Linked DNA regions of Homo sapiens: all the other regions are linked to region 1. The links come from fine-mapping of genetic effects on gene expression. A gene starts in region 1. Each other region holds a variant in brackets. All regions are shown on one strand. Distances are between the middles of the regions. Region 1 holds the start of MARVELD1 (MARVEL domain containing 1). Region 2 has its middle 27 kb from the start of SFRP5. Region 3 holds the start of AVPI1 (arginine vasopressin induced 1).

Region 1 (2,752 bases):
AAGTTGGAAATTGGTTGGGGACAAATTGTGAAATAGGCCACACAGAAGAGACAGCTTCTGTCCTGTCTCAGTAGGGGAAGCAGTGTAACAAACATCAGGTCTGTCTTTTAGAAAGATGTCATGACCTGGCTTGGTGGTTCACGCCTGTAATCCCAGCACTTTGGGAGCCAAGGGGGACAGATCACTTGAGGTCAGGAGCTCGAGACCAGCCTGGCCAACATGGCAAAGCCCTGTCTCTACTAAAAAAAATACAAAAATTAGCTGGGTGTGGTGGCACTCGCGACTGTAGTCCCAGCTACTTGGGAGACCGAGGCAGGAGAATCACTTGAGGCCGGGAGGCGGAGGTTGCAGTGAGCAGAGATTGCTCCACTGCCCTCCAACCTGGACGACAGAACAGTACTCTACCCCACCGCCCCCCACCCCCCCCCCCACAAAAAAAAGGAAAAAGAAAAAAGAAAGATGCCATGGGCACAAAGGTTGAGCATGAAGGAGAGAAGAGAGACTGGTGGTAGTTACCAGCTTCCTGGTCTGAACCCAGGTAGGCTTCATTCCTCCTCAGCAAAATGAGGGGAGTTGCGTGTATCTCTGTGGTTGTTTTGAGGGTTAAATGAGAACTCAGGTAAAGCGGTGGCACGGAATAATAATAATGTAAAGCATCGTTAGCCTCCATCACAGGCAGTTCGGCCTAGTAGTTAAGTCCGTGGGCTTTGCTTCCTCTTGGCCCTGGGTTTGTGTCCCAGCCATGTTAGGTAGCGTATTTTGAATGTGGGCAAGACAGAAGGATGGCAAGGAAGGGTTGGATAAAAGAGGGTGTGGACAATAAGCTTGTGCCGAGTGGAACGAGTGGCGGTGCCTCTGGTGGGTGATGGACTCTTACTCCGACATGGGTAACTCGGACAGCTTTGGACAGGACGAGGCGGGCCCTGGCAGGAGACTGCGGATGTCCAGGTGACAGTGGATGCCAGTTCAAAACCAGCACTGCTCTCCTCCCGCGCCCAGGAAGAGCCCAGAGGCCCGGGGTGGGCGCTATGGCAGGAAAGAGGGAAAAGGAGGAGGCAGGGCGGGCAGGGGCGGCCCCAGATGTGGCAAACTTGGCGCAGCAGCGCACGGGCGGACAGGGCGGAAGGCCCGCGTCGGGCTGGGAGATGCGCCCTGCCCTGGCCCGAGGACGAAGGAATCCGAGCTGGGGGCCTGGCGCAGAGGGGAAAGGGGGGCGCCAGGGTGGTGAGCGAGATGGAAAGAGAGATGGCAGGAAGCCGGGAGGAGCGCGCGGGGGAGGAGACAGCCGAGGGGAAGGGGAAGGGAAAGGGGCGGGTGGGAAGGGTGGAGAGCTGGAGACAGAAGGCGAGGAGGGCCGAGGGGAGGAGAGAGGAGAGGAAGGGTGGGGAAAGGAGGAGAGGAAGAGAGGACTAAGAGGGGAGCAAGGCGAGGAGGCCGCGGCGGGCGCAGCGGGCACCTGGGCCGTGCTGCCCCCGCGAGCAAGGCGCCGCCATTCCGCTGCTCGGGGCGCCGCCGCCGCCGCCACCGCGCCCAGGGGCCATGCTCCCGCCGCCCCCGCGCCAGCCGCCGCCCCAGGCGCGTGCGGCCCGCGGCGCGGTGCGCCTGCAGCGGCCCTTCCTGCGCAGCCCGCTGGGCGTGTTGCGGCTGCTGCAGCTGCTGGCCGGCGCTGCCTTCTGGATCACTATCGCCACCAGCAAGTACCAGGGCCCCGTGCACTTCGCGCTCTTCGTGTCCGTGCTCTTCTGGCTGCTCACCCTGGGCCTCTACTTCCTCACGCTGCTGGGCAAGCACGAGCTGGTCCCCGTGCTGGGCTCGCGCTGGCTCATGGTCAACGTGGCGCACGATGTGCTGGCGGCCGCGCTCTACGGCGCCGCCACCGGCATCATGAGCGACCAGATGCAGCGCCACAGCTACTGCAACCTCAAGGATTACCCGCTCCCCTGCGCCTACCACGCCTTCCTGGCGGCCGCCGTCTGCGGCGGCGTCTGCCACGGCCTCTACCTGCTTTCGGCGCTCTATGGCTGCGGGCGTCGCTGCCAGGGCAAGCAGGAGGTGGCGTGAGGCCGCCCGCGCCCGCCGCGGCCCCGATCGGGGCGGGGGAATCCCCGGAGACCAGCCTCCTTAATCCCTTCCCCCGCCGCCGCCCCGCGCGGGTGCGCCCTGGCACCCTCTCCCTGCCCTCCAGCGTTTCCACTGTCGCCCGCGCCCGGGAACCCTGACGCTCAGCTCCCGCCCGACGGCAGCGCCGCCGCCGCCCAGAATCCCAGCCCAGAATCCCGACCGCCGCGCCGGACGCGCCGTCTCCCGGGACAAGCGCAGGCTGCGATCCGAGGGGCTGACACACACTCGCAGACGAGCCGCCCCGAGGCGAAACCTCGCGGTTCCTCTTCCCTTCCCTGCTGAGACTAAGACGTGGACAGGGGCCGCGCAGATCCGGGGGAGGCTCCCAAATTGGAACCAGGCTTCTGGCTGCCCCCTTCCCTCCCGCCCCGTGGTCGGAAGAGCACTCCCTTCCCTGGCCCCTCATCCAGCCTCCGGTGCTGTAAAACGCAGGCGCTGGGCCGCGGGCGGAGCTGAGGACAGGCCTTGGCTGGTCCCAGGATGAGCGACGAGTTTGGTTTTAGCTGGGGATTGTGCTGGCATCCTGCGAAGCTCCTCCCAGCCGGTCTCTCTGTGCTCGGTTGTCTTGGGGTGGGGCCCATCCGCCGAGGTGGGGACCGATAGGAGAAGCCGGTGGGTTGTACCCTTACAC
Region 2 (2,752 bases), 85 kb after region 1:
ACCAATAATCTCAACTTCTGGTGATTATTATTGTTAGCACTGTGCAGTATCCATCTCTTTCTTGATTTTTTTCTCTATTTACTTGCAGTGACACATAGAATGAGATATTAAGTCAGGACTCTTTCTCTTCCAGTATTGACTGAGGCACGAAGACAAAGGTGCCACATGCAGAAGGAGCTGTGGGCAGCACACTGTGGTTGAGAACTGGGGAGATGGCAAAACGGGGTCAGGATCTGGAGATTTGGGAGAAATTTGAGAGAATTTCTTTGTAGAAGGCTATGCTGTGAGTCCCAACCCCTTAGTGCCAACCTGTGAGGGAGGGAGGTTACCCCTCCCCTCAAGCCTGATAAGATGGGCTACAAGGAAACCCCTTGGAGGAGCCTAGGGTGTGTCTCTTGGAGTTTGGGAGGCTCAAGGATCATGACATGAACCCAAGGAGTCTAATGGGAAGGGCTTTGGCTTTCAGCCTGAAAAGGTGTAGCAAAGACAGCAAGTGAAAAAAAACCTGTGTTGGGAGCCAGCTCCTCTTCTATGGATGGTGAAGCAAAGGAGGTGTGCATGTTCTCTGTGGACCAGATGAGGCCATGAGTGAGGGAGATGCAGTCTAGAGCTGCTTTAGTTTCATTCCACTGGAACCACCTGGAAGGGTGGTGGGATTCCAACTGAGGGTCAGGGTGACTGGGCCACAGGAAATCAGACACTCTGGGGAGAAACAGTTAAGTGCACTTGAAACCTTCAGAGGCTCTTAGGATCTCTCTTAGATCTGAATTCTGTTCTCCCAGGCTTCCTCAGACCCCTCCCATAGGTACCTCTTTGCACCTTTCCCATCTGGTTTCCTATCCCGGTCCTTGCATATACTCCTCTCTACTGCCCAAGGTAACAGAGTACCAACCCCCATGCCCCTTCCTGTGTCTTACAAAACTCTGCCATCTCAGGCTTCAGCCAGAGGCTAATGAGGTCTTCCTCTGCCCAGACTTTTGCAGGTTGAAAATTAGGAGAGGGATTTGACAAAGAAGGAAAAGTTTAGGCTTTCTCTACCAGGGCTGTGACCAGTGTTCTACTTACTTAAGGAAAAAAACACCTCACTATCATCAAGGAACCCATAGGATAGAGTAAGGAATGCTCTGCTGCATGTTTTTTCTTCTCTCCTGAGACTTCTCTTAAAAGTGTGCTAAGTCTTCTAACTCTGTCTTCTAGGTCTCTTATAATTGCATCTATATTTTTCATTCTTAATCTCTCTGTGCTGCATTCTAGATAATTTCTTAAGACCTAATTTCTAGTTCACTAATTCTCTTTTCAGCTGTATATAAACTGCTGTTAACCCTATTCTTTGAGATCCTAACTTTTTTTTTTTCAGAGCTAGAATTTCTATTTGGTTCTTTTTCAGACTTGCTATGTCACTTTTTATAGTTACTTATTCCCTGCCAAAATTTTAAAACTTAGACTTAAAAAAAACCCAGACATGTGTGAGAAGACTTTTATTTCTTTAAATACATTAAGCC[T/G]AGTTGGTTTTAGTTTCTACCTGATAATACCCATATTTTATGTACTTTGGGACCTATTTCTGTTGTCCATTGTTTCTTTTATTCTTAGAAAAATAACTCTACCTCCAGCTCAGTGCTACCCAGGCTGTGACCAGGCTGTGATCAACTGTAGCTCTGAAAAAAAAATTAGAATCTCAAAGAATGGGGTTAACAGCAGTTTAGATACAGCTGAAAAGAGAATTAGTGAACTAGAAGTTAGGTCTTAAGAAACTATCTGGAATGCAGCACAGAGAGATTAAAGATGAAAAATATAGATGCAAATGTAAGAGACATAGAAGATAGAGTGAGAAGACTTATCATACTTTTAAAAGAAGTCTCAGGAGAGAAGAAAAAGCATGTGGCAGAGCATTCCTTAAGTGACTCATCCTATGGGTTCTTTGATGATAATGAGGTGTTTTTGCCCTTAAGTAAGTAGAACACTGGTCATAGCCCTGGTAGAGAAAGTCCACAAAGCAGCTTTGTAGCTGAGCTTAAGCAGCTTTGTAGCTGGGTTTATCTCTTGGGGTGGAGATAAACTTTGTGCTGACACCAGCCACCTTGCTGCTCCTTCATCCTTAGTGCAGGGCCTTATGGCCCAAGACGCTACTCAAGCTGCACCTGCATTTTAGGTGTGGGAGGAGAAAGGCTGGAGAAAGGCATACCTTCACATTTAAGGAGGCTTCTTGGCAGTCCTGCAGAATAAACCTCCTTAATCTCATGGACTGGACCTTGCATACCACTCACATGGAGCTGCCAGGGAAGTTGGGAAATGGAACCTCTGAGCTGGGTAGCACTGGGCTGGTTGCGGGGTTCTTTTTCTAAGGAAGACAAGAAAAAGGGAATTTGGAAGGCAACTGGAAGTTTCTGCCACCGTAACTTTGACCGGATCACTTTTCGTCATTGGATTTCAGTTCTTCACCTATAATTGGGGAGAAGGCACTGTTGGCAGTGCCTTCTGTGTTGGGTGGCACAATTCTTCACTGTGCAGAACTGTCCTCTGCCATGTCGGACATTTAGCACTCCCAGGCCGTGTGTGTTAAATGTCAGTAGCATACCTAGGCTCCGTTACCACCACAACAGCCCTGGTCTTTGCTACCTGCTTCTAGGGGACAGTGCTGCTGCCTGTTGTGAACCCCTGGACAACATCGTGGTTCTAGATTTCCCCCTAACAGTGGCATTCTGTGGGAGCCTGTGGTTCTATGATGTTTGGGTCTCAGTAACTTCATCTGCCA
Region 3 (2,752 bases), 26 kb before region 1:
GCGCAGAACAGAGCACGTTCAGATGGGTGCTTTCTTTCCTCCTCACTTAAGGTGGCACTATTGTTATACCCATTTTACAGATGAGAAAGCTACACCCAAAGTCACACAGCTGGCAGGTGATGGAAGCTGGGACATGAACCCAGGCAGTCTGACCCCAGCACCCGGGCTCTCAAGCCACTGTTATTTTTGTTCCTGCCAGATGGCTGAGGAGGTCTTCTGGGGAAGGTCGGTCCCAGAAGCCTTTCGGAGGCTATCTGCTTCTGTAGATTGTGGAAGGAGCAGGGAGGGATCCAAAGTCAGGACTCCCAAGCTAGCCTCTGTACCCTCTGCACTCCACTGCCCGGTGGAGAATTGGAGCAGGTACTCACCACACTGAAGGGCAGCTCCGACAGACCTCAAATGGGGATGGGGCAAGCTAAGATGCGCCCACTCCAACCTCTTCCACAGCCTTCAGAAAGGGCAGGCGCAGCTCTGCGAAGGTGCTTACAAGGGCCAGTCGGTGATCACGGGCAGCACAAGAGCATGGCAGAGGGTATCCTGGCCGAGGTCCTAAGGCGACATCTGCAGCACGAGGAGGCCCCGGGACTCAGACGTGGCCGCTTCGCAGAACGACGGGGTCCTAAGTGGATCTGGCGGTCGCGTCCCGCTGGCACCCCGGCTCTGACTGTCGCCCTCCGGCTCCCACCGCAGCGCCGAGCTGGGCCGCCGACCTACGTACCTGGTTGCTTGAGGCAGGCCGCACGCAGCCCCAAACTGGTCCGGGCCACTTGGGTCACAGCCGCGGTTCCCGGGAGAAAGCGCTCCCTAGCCCCGGAACAGCCAATCCTCGGCCCTAGCCAGGTATGAGCTCCCAGGCGAGCCTTCCAAACCCAAGGCGGAGTTCCGTGCGCCAATCATCGGTGGGAGACAGGGAGGGGGCGTGTCCATCCCCGCCCCCCGCCTCCGCTGGCCTCGAAAGCGGAGTGCGAAGCTTCCTCAAACCTAATCGGCGGCGGAGCGGCGGTGAGGGGGCGTGTCTGCCCGGGCCCTGCCCACCGCCCTCT[C/G]CGCCCCCGCGCGGCGCCCGAGGCGCCCCCTTCATTGACGTCAGTCCCCAGGGCCAGCGCGGTTTTGCTGGCGCGGGAGCTGGGCGGGGCTGCATTCCTGCCCCAGGGTGCGGCGAAAGCTGGCCCTGCCGGGTACACGTGACGGATGCCCCTTCTCCTGGGCCCGAGGCCAGCGCGCGCGGCACTGACTGCCTTGCAGCGCGTGGCCCTCTGCAGATCCTCAGACTCTGCCGCTCAAGTCCCCTCCCAGCCCACCGTTTGGCTCCGGCTTTGAGGGAGAGGAGGGGGCAGTCTGCTGGAGTCAGACCTTGGGCTTCAAAGCCAGAATGTCGTGGGTTCAAATATTGGGTCATTTGTGCGACTTTGGGCCGGTTACCTAAACAAGACCGTATTTTAAAGTTTGTATGCATTCGGAAATGTTCATTAGTGACCTATGCTGTCCGAGTTCCTTGATAGGCCGTAAACAAGAGAGACGGAAAGACCTATAGCCCTTGTCCTGGGGAGTCTACAGCCTAGTAAGGGAGGCAGGCATTAAACAACCTAAAACATGGAGTATGTGATTACAGTTGTGATCAATGTTATGGCTATAAGAGGATAAATATGGAGGAACCTAAGCTTCCTCTGGGAGGTTCAGGAGGGCTGAAGAAGCAGCATTTAAGCTGAGATATAAAGAAGGAGTTGAAACTGGTCAAATGAAGAGGAGTGGATCTGGGGAGACTGCTTTAAGGAAAGAGGGAAAGGCATTTGGTTGGGCCAGGAGGTAGCTTGGCTCCGGAGGAATTAAATGCGACCCGGAGTAAGGCTAGCAAGAGAGAGCACGGTGGGAAGTAGAAGGCAGAGGCAGGCAGAGAAGGTTGCATGTGATCCTTGGAGGGGTTTAAACAAGGAATGGCATTATATGTACTGTGTTTATGTAACGGGCATTTTATAGTACTTACCACGTACCAGTAGTGTCAGTCAGCACTTTGCAAATTTCATCATCATGACAAGTTTGTGTTTTTAGAAGGTCACTCTGGCTGCAGTTTGGAACTTGGATTGGAGGGGGCAGGAGTGGAGGCAGGGTGTCCAGTAGGCCTCTGATAAATGCTTGTTTTGTCCTTGGAAGATGAAGTGTTTGTGCACTTGTTCAGCAATGCTCAGGAAAGGCTCCTGGGTCTCCCTGACTTCCTTTTTACTTCATAGCTGACCTCTTATCCATTTAAGCTTGATTTTTCTTCTGTAAAAGTTGTGGGTGGGAAGGGGAAGAGCCAGCACATGGGGCTTTGTGAATTCCTTGTTGCAGCGTGAAGGGGATGCTTGGGAGCTATTTGTCCTCACCCCATGATCTCCAGTTCCTCTCTCTGTCCTTCTGCACAAAAACAGCGTAAGTGTTGTTGTGCTGTGGCTAAAAGGGTTTTTTGTTTTGTATTTTTGAGACAGAGTCTCACTCTGTTGCCCAAGCTGGTGTGCAGTGGCACCATCTCAGTTCACTGCATCTTCTGCCCCCTGGGTTCAAGCGATTCTCCTGCCTTAGCCTCCCGAGTAGCTGAGACTACAGGCACGTACCACCACACCTGGCTAATTTTTGTATTTTTTAGTAGAGATGCAGTTTCACCATGTTGGCCAGACCGGTCTTGAACTCCTGACCTCAGGTAATCCACCTGCCTCGGCCTCCCAAAGTGCTGGGATTACAGGCGTAAGCCACCATGCCCGGCCGCTAAAAGGTTTTT

Evidence for each region.
Region 2: its variant is fine-mapped to the expression of MARVELD1 in whole blood (TOPMed, PIP 0.96).
Region 3: its variant is fine-mapped to the expression of MARVELD1 in whole blood (TOPMed, PIP above 0.99).

The regions. Positions count from the first base shown.
Region 1 is chr10:97,712,338-97,715,089 of GRCh38, forward strand. It overlaps MARVELD1 (MARVEL domain containing 1), which reads left to right and starts at 1,393. Exons shown (of 2, transcript NM_031484.4): 1 at 1,393-2,752. The coding sequence starts at 1,540. The coding sequence ends at 2,061. RefSeq lists an enhancer at 1,705-1,754 and a silencer at 2,065-2,284.
Region 2 is chr10:97,797,438-97,800,189 of GRCh38, forward strand. No RefSeq gene overlaps it. Among named protein-coding and RNA genes, the nearest start is that of SFRP5, 27 kb to the left of the region's middle. The variant T/G (reference allele first, on the strand shown) is at 1,503.
Region 3 is chr10:97,686,398-97,689,149 of GRCh38, forward strand. AVPI1 (arginine vasopressin induced 1) reads right to left here and starts at 844. Exons shown (of 3, transcript NM_021732.3): 1 at 369-844. RefSeq lists enhancers at 1-934, 668-1,867, 935-1,888 and a silencer at 831-1,210. The variant C/G (reference allele first, on the strand shown) is at 1,044.